Linked DNA regions of Homo sapiens: region 2 is linked to region 1. Evidence: fine-mapped expression QTL. Tissue or cell type: whole blood. Region 1 holds a variant in brackets; the other region holds the start of a gene. All regions are shown on one strand. Distances are between the middles of the regions.

Region 1 (5,977 bases):
TATACTTTTGTTCTTTGGAGTACCAATGTTAGGTTTTACAAAAGTAATTTGATGAGGGGAAGGAGGGTTGTGTATTTATTTTACTTTCTGATGTTTGCTTAAATAATACTGTGTACGTATTCAGCTTGCTGTAATTCTGTAATTACGCTATTGCGTTTGGCTAACTCCTTTTTGGAAATGTCTTTTTTTTTGTACAAGGCATGTGTTAGTTTTTACTAATTGCTCTGAATGTGTATATTTAGATTTCTGAATTGAAAAAAAATAGCGTACAATAAGTAGATTTAAAGTAATTAGAACACTTTATTGATTTTTCTGATGTTTTCTGTATCTAAAATTTATCACCACCAGGTTGTGCTAAAACAGCAGGAAGTTTTTATATTGTGAGTGACAGTACCCATTATTTCTCTTAATTTTACTAACATTTACTATAAGAATATTCTCTCGCTCTTTTCTCCACTCACAGCCATTCTCCCTCCTTCTCTTCATAACATCAAGCTGTCACAGACAAATCTGAAAATGTTACAAGCACAGACTATGTTGTATGTTTTGAAATTTTAGAACAGTAATGTTCTTTTTAAAATTGAACTTCTGCAGAGTAAGAAAATGAATACATTTATTACTTTAAATTTGTAAAATTTTCCAAAGTAAAACCATACAAAGCTAGTGTCAGTCTCTCTCATTGTTCACAAATAAAGGACTTTTGTTAATTGATTAAATCACTTACTATATTCGATATGAAATATATAAAACATACAACCATTATCTAATACATTTCAGAATGTTTCACTGGTTACAGGAGCCAGTAAATAAAGTTGACTCTAAACAGGAATTTTAAATAAACTAAACATTTTTTCATCACCAAGCATCATTTATATATTGGTTTCTGATTTACATATGTGATGTCTAAGAAAATCTCTGACTTTATTCTTTTTTGCCTGTATTAATTTAAAATTTATCCCATTTCGTCTCCCCCTTCCCACAAATCAGGTATACAATGGGGGAAGAGGGAAAGGAGTACATAGTTTTGACACAGTGACCTTTTATTATATAGGTTACCAACTGCTAGCCTTCATATTTTTAGAAAGGGCAGTTTTGATTAGACCCATCTATGAGGTTCTGTTTTTTTTTTTACTGGAAATTTCATGCGTTAAATGTTGGGTAGGATTAAGTGATGAGACGACGGGTCCAAATGTATTAATCACTGGGAAGTGTTGAAGTATTACCGACCATCTTACTCATTTCTTTATTTTTTCCTCTCAGTCACCAGTCAGAACAGGTCATCAGTAGTTGTGTAACTAAGATGAACAGGAACTTTGGTGTCAGGGGATACTTAGTGATGCCAGTAGTTTTTCCAAGCTTGAATTTATACTGTGACTATCAGGCAATATTTAGATGGGGGTAATGGAAACTTTTTTAAAGTATAGGAATTTTCTCCTTATGCTGACATAAGTAACATCTGATGCTGTAGAAGCTTAGTATCAAATATTAATTGGACTGAAATAGTTCAGAATATTTTCCCAAAATGATTTCCTCCCACTCAGTTTTTACTTTTGCAGAGCTTCTACTTACCATTTGTAGTAACCTGAATGACAATAAAATGGTGAAAAAAAGATTTGAAATGGTGAAACCGCCTTCTTCCAGATATCATTCAGGTGACTAAAATGCAAAACCAAGTACAATAGACAAATAATAGCAACACTAGAAAACAAGAAATACTACCGTCAATAGAGCAGCAATTTCTAGGTATTTTTGGAAGACAGGAGGGACATAGGGATTGACAGGTGTTTGTTGGTGTCAGTGTGAGCAAACCACGTAAGCTGAGTGAAGCAGAAATGGAGAGGTCTCACCAATTCTGAGTAGTGAGGGCTAGTAACAAAGATTAACCCTAAGGTGGGTGGACATGGGTGTGTGGTGGCTGGTTCCTGTAGTCGCAGCTACTCAGGAGGCTGAGATGGGAGGATCACTTGACCTAGGAGTTCAAGTCAAGCCTGGGCAACATGGCAGGACCCTATCTTTAAAAAAAAAAAAAAAAAAAAAAAGGCCCTTAAGGTGGTTGGAGAGAAATTACAGGGTGCATGGGGCAGGAGAGGGGTAGGTATCAGTAGAC[G/A]TAAGGTTTGCTTTTTTCTCCCCAGTGAATATTTTACTCAAAACTGAGGAAAGTAGAGTGATACGCTACTGCAGAATAGGTTTTTTGTTTTTTTTTTCAAGCCGGGTGCTGTGATTCTTGACTATGGCTGAGTAGAATCAACCGTCAGTGCATGCAGATAGCTGGGCCAGAATCTGGAGGGTGGAACTGGCCATTTAAAAAAGTTCTTTAGATTTAATAATGTGGAGCTATCATTGGTGGGAGTAGTATTATAACTCAGAGCTTCCTAACTTCCTAAGCTGGCAGTTCAGTAGTGGCTGATAATGAGTGAATCATGTATATGGCAATCTTACACTTGTTATTGTATGTCTTTTTTATAGCCATCCTAGTGGGTTTGAAGTATCTCGTGATTTTGATGTGTTTACATTCTGACTAATGATGTTGAGCATTTTTTTATGTACTTCTTGGCCACTTGTATTTCTTTGGAAAATTATCTATTCCAGTTCTTTGCCCATTTTGAAATGGGTTATCTCATTTATTACAGTTTCAGGAGTTCTGTATATATAATAGACATAAAGCCACTATAAAATAAATTAATTACAAATATTTTCTCCCATTCCAGGAATTGTTTTTTCACTTTATTGATGGTATCAGTTGCAGCACAATAATTTTAATTTTGATGGGGTCCAGTTTATCTATTTCATTTTGTTGCTTGTGCTTTTGGTGTCATATCCAAGAGACCATTGCAAAATTGAAGATTATGAAGATTTACCCCCAGTATTTTCTTCTGTTTTATAGTTTTAGCTCTTGCATGTAGGTCTATCCATTTTGAGTTAATTTTTGTGTATGATGTGAGATAGGTGTCTAGCTTCATTCTTTCACCTGTGGATATCTGTTTTCCTAGCACCATTTGTTGAAAAGATTATTTTTTCTCTGTTGAATTGTCTTGACACCCTGGTGAAAAATCGATTGACCACAGATCTATGGGTTTATATCTGAAGTCTCAATTCTATTACATTGATTTATATGTCGTCTTTATGCCAGTATGACATTGTCTTGACTACTGTAATTTGTTATAAATTTTATAATAGGAAATCTGAGATCTCCAACTTTGATTTTTTTGAAGATTGTTTTAACTACTCTGGATCTCTTTCATATTCATCTGAATTTTAGGATCAGCTTGTCAATTTCTGTAAAGAAACCAGCTGGGTTTTGATAGGGATATATTGGATCTGTAATTAAAGTTGGTGCTTTTGTATATTAGTTTCTAGTATTCTGTGTCATCAGTGGCATCTTCATATTAACTTGCTTATGGCAGATTATAAATTTGTTCTCTACATAATTTTGGAGCATGATTGTGGGCTAACCTGCCAGTGAGAGTGGCTGCTGTGCAGCTGACAGTCTTCTATATTTGTGGAAAGGCAGGAGAAACAGCACGTTCAATTGCCTCGTGTTAGGATGGACAGAATTCGGTTAATTCAAGAGATATTTGAGAAGTTGAATCCACAGGACTTGATAATTGATGGAGTGTGAGAGATAAGGTAGAGAAAGATAGAAAAGGTTATGCTTAAGTTTCTTTGGGCAGCCAAGATGGGGAATGTTGAAGAAGGAGCTGAATTCCTTCAATTTGATCATTTCTCTACCTAGACCTATAGATTTCTGGTCCCTCTAGGTTATTGTATCCAGGGCTCTAAAGGCAGAACAAGGCTAGGATTTAGGATGCAGGCATGCATACAAAAATATGTTAAAGCTGGAAGGGTTGATAGAGTTACTACATTAGGCATAGCCAAGGCTTTATTTATATAGAGACAAACATAAGAGCTCTGAATGCATCCAAAGAAATCAGAGCTTGTATCCAAGGACATCAATGCTATTGGGGACAGAAAGGTGAGACATCAGTACTGTAAGTGACAACAGACAGCCTGAGATGTCAGTGTAGGCAGAAGTTAGGCTGGGGTCTCCAGAATCAGATGTTCAACTGACAGCAAGTGTGAAGGAGGACTTTGTCAGGGAGAACTGGGATCAGTTTCCAGAACCAGGAGAGTAGAATAAATAACATCATCTACCTGGAGTCTGAAGTTCATCCAAACTAGTGTTTATCAAAGAAATTTTAAGAATCATCTGTAAAACACGTAAAATGGAAATTCCTGGATCTCTCAGCAGGTCAACAAGAGGCTCAAGTGATCCTGCCACAGATGGAATATTGATCGTAATTTAAGAAACACTGATGAAACTATCAAAAAGACCAATTTCATGATGAATCAGCAAGCTACTAGGACATACGTCCTCTGTTGACATCTAGGACAAATCTTAATGTATGAATGGAGATTGGGGTTATCTACAAGGAATGGAGCTGTTACCAGAAAGGGGATCTTGATTCAGACCCCAATAGAGGCTTGGATCTTGCACAGGAAAGAATTCAAGATGAGTTGCAAAGTGCAGTGAGAAGAGATAGTTTATTGAAAGCTACTCCATTCCAGAGTAGGCATCCTCAGAAAACAAGCAGAGGAATGCACTGTCTTTAAGTTTTTCTTATATAGGGGTCTTCTCTATGTAAAGACTAAGGTGTGCGTACAGGTGGATAGACAGATAGCATGACAAAATTTAGTACTTTATTGATTTAAGGAAATCCATCCTTGGCCAGGTGCGGTGGCTCACGCCTGTAATCCCAGCACTTTGGGAGGCCTAGATGGGCGGATCATTTGAGGCCAGGAGTTCAAGACCAGCCTGGCCAACATGGCGAAACCCCATCTCTACTACGAAATACAAAAATTAGCCAGGCATGGTGGCACACACCTGTAATCCCAGCTATTCAAGAGGTTGAGGCAGGAGAATCATTTGAACCCGGGAAGCGGAGGTTGCAGTGAACCAAGATCATGCCACTGCACTCCAGCTTGGGTGACAGAGCCAAACTCCATCTCAGATAAATAAATAAATAACTCTGTGTTTGACTTCTTAGTGTGTAAGTGCATCAAAGCATAACTATAATTCTTGGAAGCATATATTGTTATGAGTATTGGGACTTCTGGACTTTCTGCTGTAGGAGTTTGTTCTTACAGGTGTCTTTAAGCTGTTTTCTTAGCTGTGAACATCTTAGTTCTATGGGTCATGACTGGGAAGTTTAAGATGGAGTTGATTTTAAAATGGTGTCACTCTGGCTCTTCTAGGCTTCTGCTTCCCTAATACAGTCACACTAGATAGATCTTTGGCCAGTCATGTCCTGTCATCCTCTAAATCAGGGTTTCTTGACCTGATTGGTGGGGAGGGAGGGCAGAGCAGTTTGCCTCAGAACATTTGGCATTATTCTGAGAAATACATGATTGTCATGACTGGGGAGGGTACTACTGGCATCTAGTGGGTAGAGGACAAGGATGCTGCAGAGTCATCCCCATAGCAAAGAATTGTCCAGTCCCAAACATCAGTCTTGCTGCTGTTGAGAAAGCCTGCTCTATATCCTGAAGGATCTTGTGATAAAGAGAAGAGTAATTGCTTCCTAGGTTCAAGAGACATGGCTAAGGTAGTTCTAACTCTTTTTCTGGGGGGCTGCTACAATTAGCAATATCCACACCACTACCGAAAGAAATACTAAACTTTTTGGAAAGAGAAGGATTGGGGAGAAGTGTGTGCAATGAGACAGGAAAGCCCCAGGAACTCCCCTGAAGTCTTTTCCATGAAGACTGATCCATGACAACAGCTGTGTGCATGGTATTAGAAATCCCTGTGGAAAGTGACCAGTAAAGAGAGCTTGTACTTGTGTAACAGTTTAGTTTACAAAGCACTTGTGTATTGCTTAGCTTCTTCTTTGCCTTGGGAAGTAACCAGGATTATTGGTTTCCTGTGGCTGCTGTAACAAATAACCAGAAATTTGGTAACTTCAAACAAGAGAAATTT
Region 2 (5,515 bases), 130 kb before region 1:
CAGAAACAAAGGCCTGAAAGGATAGACAGGAAGTAGTTACCAGTGATTGCCCCTGGGAGAATGAGTAGGGGGAAGGGCACTACTTAAACTGAATTTTTTTCCTAAAAGATCCGTGTACTATACAATTTTTACAGTTTAAAAAACAAAATACTTTGTATTCTTAGAACTAAGATTTAAATGTATTTTGATGAAATATGGTTTCAGTGAAGAACACAAAATATAACGGATGTCTGAACTACTAATATATGCTTGTTACTTAGCATATATAACAAGATCTATTTTTCTGTTCAAGCACCTTTGTTCTATCAAGTTCCATGAGTTTAATTTTTAAACTAACAAAGCCAACAACTCCTTTTTGGAAATAGGTAAAATAATTCTAAATGGAACATTTCTGGTTACTTACTGATAGTAACACAAATTTAAAAACAAAACAAATACCAACATAACGTCCTTAACAAAGCTTATCCTGAGAATTATTTCAATTGACAGACCAAAGCATGATCTAAATGATGTAAACTGTACATGACTTATGACAGTGGAGAAACATAATAAAACTGTTGAACTTTGAATTAGTGACCATCTTATCCATTTTACAAATAGGGAATATATCATCAGTCAAGTATCCTTTTACTTAACAATACAGTCAGGATTGTATAACTATCTGAGAATTAAATTCAACAAATATTAGGTTGCTAGCACAGTATGTTTAAGCCATTCTACTATGGTGACACAAACACTGTCCCTACTCAAAAGACCCTTATGAAATTGCAAAAAAAGTTTATTTTACACTGAATGCCATAATAAAATTAAGGACTACTACCTCTAGAATCTAAACTTTTCCATTAATTAGGCAATTTGGGTGACAAATTAACTTTTCAGCCACTATTTGCAATCACTCTGAATGGGATCACTATTACATACTGTAATAAGCAGTGGTTACACTCTTAAGTGACAATTATTTAGATTGTTTTTATGTTGAGATTTTTAAAATCTATTCTCCTTTGCATATAAGTCAATCTCTAGGGACCTTTAGGGAAACATTTACTTTTTCAGGCATCTAGAATATTATTAGGAATAGTAAAATCACAATGTATTAATATAAATCAATAGGCATTCCTCTATTAACAGAAACCCCATGAGTACTCTCAAATTCTCATTACAAGACACTGGCACACAGGAGGAAATGTCTATGCTGAGCAACTTGAGGACGTTGTTTCTTTACCTCGGTATACTAAAACAACTGTCAATTTTCACTATTCAATATTTCCTGAGTGTTACTGATTCCCAGTCCGTGCACAAGGCTATGAGAGAATACAGATTCTCTCTCTAACATCTAGGAATTCACAATTCAGTGGGGAGAAAGGCACACAAACAAAGTAGGTAAAAATAAAAGTAGTGGAAAATGTCGCTTTGAGAAATAGCATATACTCAAATTAATACTTATCCATTTTCTAAAAGCCTTGAGTTGTTTCAGCAAACACAATACATGGTGAAAAAATACAGTACTCAAAGGAAGAACTCTTGGTTTCACAATTCTTAACATATTGTAACGTGACTTCAGGCACGTCATTCTTAACCAGGGTTGGCCTTAGTCACCTCGTCTAAAAATGTCAGTATTAGCAACCTAAACCCGAATCGTTTTACCGGCATAAACTAAATTGTCTCTAGTGGCTCTTCCGGGTCAAAGATCCACAATACTCACATACTCATCCATCAGATTACCCCAGTAATCATGGCCCAGGGAACCACTACGGGTAAACTAGATGAATTAGAGTTCCTAAACTGAGATAGGCTTTAAACTTGTGAACTCAGAAAATGTATTACAGTGGCCATGATACAGCCTTATAAAATGAACAAGAATAGCTGAACATTTTGTGTATCATTCTGGTACAATATGCGTGTGAATTTCCCACCAGGAATCCGAGTTTCTGCACTACTGGAACCACGCCTCCCAGAGAAATCAAGGAGACACCAGAAAAACCTCCTCAAGGGACAGGGAAAAATCACGGACAAGCTTTCTTCCCTTCTCACCTCCCCCTAAAAAAGCCCAGTGTTTTTCTTCCCCTCCAGCTATGCAGCTGCACCCAGCAGAGAAGTACTAGATTAGCATCATCTGCATTTCATTCCTTTTCTTTTGCAATAGCTACTCGCCTATAATAAACAGACCTTGTGCTCAAGGGAGAATTTACTTCCCCGTCCAGTAAAAATGAAGTTCCTTATTTTCACTAACAACGCCGTCTCCAATCAACACCCAACCTCCCTGGGGGGTGGGTGAGACCAGACACGCCTCTCCCTGCCACCCGTGCTGCAAGCCTGACGACCCACACCCTAGGAATTGTCCCACTTTCCGAGCCCCTTCTGCTCGAGTGGCGAGGCTTCGGGGGACAGCGGAAGAGGCCAGGGATTTGGCGTGCACACCAGGGGGGCGTCCAGGCAGGCCCGAGAGCGCTAGGCTGCCTCCGCTGACAGGGGGCTCGCACAGGCGGAAGGGGAGCGGCGAGACCTATGCCACCCCCACTTACCCACTTTGTCCTTCCCGTACATGTGCCCGGCCACCTGATGCGAGAGGGGCACGCAGCCGTTGAGGAAGCGGAGTCTGCCGCCCGCCGGCTGCGGGGTGCCCTCAGGGGTGGACTCGATCGCCGGTGAGGTCCGCATTTCTGGGGGGCCCGGCGCCTCGACCCGGAGGGGGGATGGTGGCTCTGTTGCCATAACGGAGAGCAGAAGCGGTAACGGCAGCGAGAGTAGGAAAAAAAATAGGGCGAGGGAGGGGGCGCCGGAGAACCCGAGGGTCGCTCAGGCTCGGGCGCGAGGAGGCCCGGGGGTTCCCGCGGCTGGTGCCCTCTGAAGCGCGGGGAGGGGGCCCATGACGCCGCCGGGGCGCGGGCGCTCCTCTGCCCAACTCTCGGCGGAACGCGGCTCCCGGCTCCTGTTCCTCTGCCGCCGCAGCCGCCGGCCCCGGCGCTGCCCGGTAGACAGAACCGAGCCGAAGAACAGCAGCAGCGGCGCCCCGCGCTCCCTGGGGCCCTGACGGCGACGGCGGNCCCACCTCCTGCGCCCCCGCCCCCTCCCGCCGTCCTCCAGTCCCCTCAGCTGCCGCGCGCGCGTCACCGCCGCCCGCACCGCCGCTGCCGCCGCTACTGAGCATGCCCAGAGGCCGTCCAACGGGATTCCGGCCCCCCAAGTCAGCGGGGCGGGCGCGCCGTGCTGCCAGGACCTGGCGACGGCGACAGGGATAGGGCGAGCGCACCCCTGTTTCTTCTCACCCCCACCCCGCGGGCATTTCGAAGTCACGCGTGCTGCTGTGGCCTCATTCATTCAACACGCTTCTCAGCGCGTCAGCTCAGAGAAGCCAGGGACTTCTAAGTGTGCGGAGCAGTCCGGCAAGAATTGGAAGGCACTAGCATTGCCAAGGGTGGCTCTAAAGGCCACCCCTAACTGCACTCAACTCCCTCCAACTCCCACCCCGCACGAAAACAACAGAAGTAAAAGCAGGCAGCTTATTAGAGATGCGCCTTCAAAATACCCTTCGAGTTAATCTCAGCCCCCCTCCCCGGATTGCTGTCTCTAAACCGCTCTTACCAAAAAGTAAAACACATAAAAATAAAATAAAATTGGAACCGACACGAATTTCAGACTGTAGAAGACAGAGAAAACTTCTAATTTTTTTAAGTGAACATGTTTTTTAAAGAAAGGAGCAAGTTTTTTCTCTCCCACTCGACCTTTAAGATAGTGCAGGTTCCAAGGTCCTGAGTAGATAATTATATCAAAAGCAGAAAGGGATGGACACCGGTAGCTACGCGAGGTTCTGGAATGGGACTCAGTCATTGATTCCTGTATGTCCGCCGCTGGCATGTTATATAAAAGCTGGACCTGGCCTTGAAGGTAAATCGTCACAAGCCCCGAGCAAGAAAAACTGGGGTCAAATCTTAGGTATCTGATTAAAGTAAGTGTCCTATTAACACCTGTTTCTGCCCCCAGAAGCCCACACACCTGGAAGAGACGTAAAATCTGGCCTGGATTCCCTAATCCCAGGGCCCTGCCCCTCGGCTTCAGGGCCCCGCCCCTCGGCTTCAGGGCCCCGCCCCTCGGCGTTGCGCAAACTCTGTTGCTACCTAAGTCTTTTCCTCCTCCCACCTCCCGTAGCTGTCAAAATCCGGAGTCCAGACTTCCTTATGGCCAGGACAGCTCCACGCATGCTCAGCACCTACCAGGGTCGAGCTCACACACGTGCCTACGACCCGCCGCGGCGCCTGCGCGGTAGCATCGCGGAGTCGGTGCTTTAGTACGCCGCTGGCACCTTTACTCTCGCCGGCCGCGCGAACCCGTTTGAGCTCGGTATCCTAGTGCACACGCCTTGCAAGCGACGGCGCCATGAGTCTGACTTCCAGTTCCAGCGTACGAGGTGAAGTGGGGCCTGGGAGCGGGTGAGGCTGGTGAGGCTCAGCGGTTGCCGCGCCCGCAGTTCGACTGGGTTGTTTTACCACTGCCCTACGCGCCCGCCGGTCCTATAACCTTGAGATGCAGAAGGGCAAGCGCTCGGCCCGGCTGCGGGCTCCGGGCCGGACAGCGAAAGGGGGCGAGGTCAGGGATGGATTGATGGTTTGGGGCCATGCCGGACCAGAGTCCACGTTTACCCCAGCTAGCCAAACCCTAACACCTAATGACCGCGCCGCTAGCTTTTCTTGTTCACCCCTAAGACGCTTTCATGTCCTTAAGTCACATAGCCTGGAAAAGAAGGAAAGGTGGGAGAAAACAACAGCAAACCTGTTTGCCCTTCTCATGTTTCAGTCAGCGTCGGGCCACAACGTCGATTTCCTGCAATCCTGAAGCATTGCGTGACTAATCACATCTTAGTTTTGCAGATTTTTTTTTAAGGGATGAAACGCAATCCGAGGTTTTCAGTTTTCCCGGTTTTTTATTATTCCTCTGGCATCTGACACTCGGTGGCAGTAGTCCAGGATAAAGGATTGAAAACTGCGTTCGTTGAACCTTCAGCTTTCTGAGTCTTCTTTCCCCTGTGCTAGTACCTAGCGTTTGGAAACAGTATTTCGCAGAAAGTCCCGTTATAATAAAATTAAGAGACTTTATAAGCAGTCATTTAATGTGGAGTTTCACTTTATAACCATTCTTGGTGATGTTATAATTGTTAATATAATACTGTGTACCAGACACACAATATATGTGATCTTTGCCCCTCTATAAAACGCCACTTCGCAAGGTTTTGAGTAAAGGCAAAGAGACTGTCTAGAGGTTAATTAAAAATACGTTCAGTAAATATTGAACATCTGTAGTGCCAGGTAATAAAAAGTCCCTACTAACTTGAGCCCTAATTTTTTAATAGGTAGTTTCCAAAAATTGGAGAGTTCCACTTCTGTTGACAAAATTTACCTGGCTAAGGGTGATATTCCATGACATTTCGAAGTTACTAATGATATAGAGATTATTATTTGCAAAAATTATATTAAAGGATACTCATCTTGAGACTTTTTTTAATAGAGGCAGCTTGGTGCAT

What was found. PIP is the estimated chance that this variant, and not a neighbour inherited with it, causes the effect.
Region 2: IPMK starts here. The variant in region 1 is fine-mapped to the expression of IPMK in whole blood (INTERVAL, PIP 0.91).

Annotation. Positions count from the first base shown.
Region 1 is chr10:58,398,359-58,404,335 of GRCh38, forward strand. It overlaps TFAM (transcription factor A, mitochondrial), which reads left to right. Exons shown (of 7, transcript NM_003201.3): 7 at 1-862. Among named protein-coding and RNA genes, the nearest start is that of TFAM, 16 kb to the left of the region's middle. The variant G/A (reference allele first, on the strand shown) is at 2,108.
Region 2 is chr10:58,264,900-58,270,414 of GRCh38, forward strand. It overlaps IPMK (inositol polyphosphate multikinase), which reads right to left and starts at 2,995. Exons shown (of 6, transcript NM_152230.5): 1 at 2,523-2,995. The coding sequence starts at 2,712. CISD1 (CDGSH iron sulfur domain 1) reads left to right here and starts at 4,263. Exons shown (of 3, transcript NM_018464.5): 1 at 4,263-4,405. The coding sequence starts at 4,375. RefSeq lists enhancers at 2,166-2,275, 2,230-2,524, 3,969-4,525, 4,371-4,420 and silencers at 2,776-3,285, 3,991-4,050, 4,641-4,690.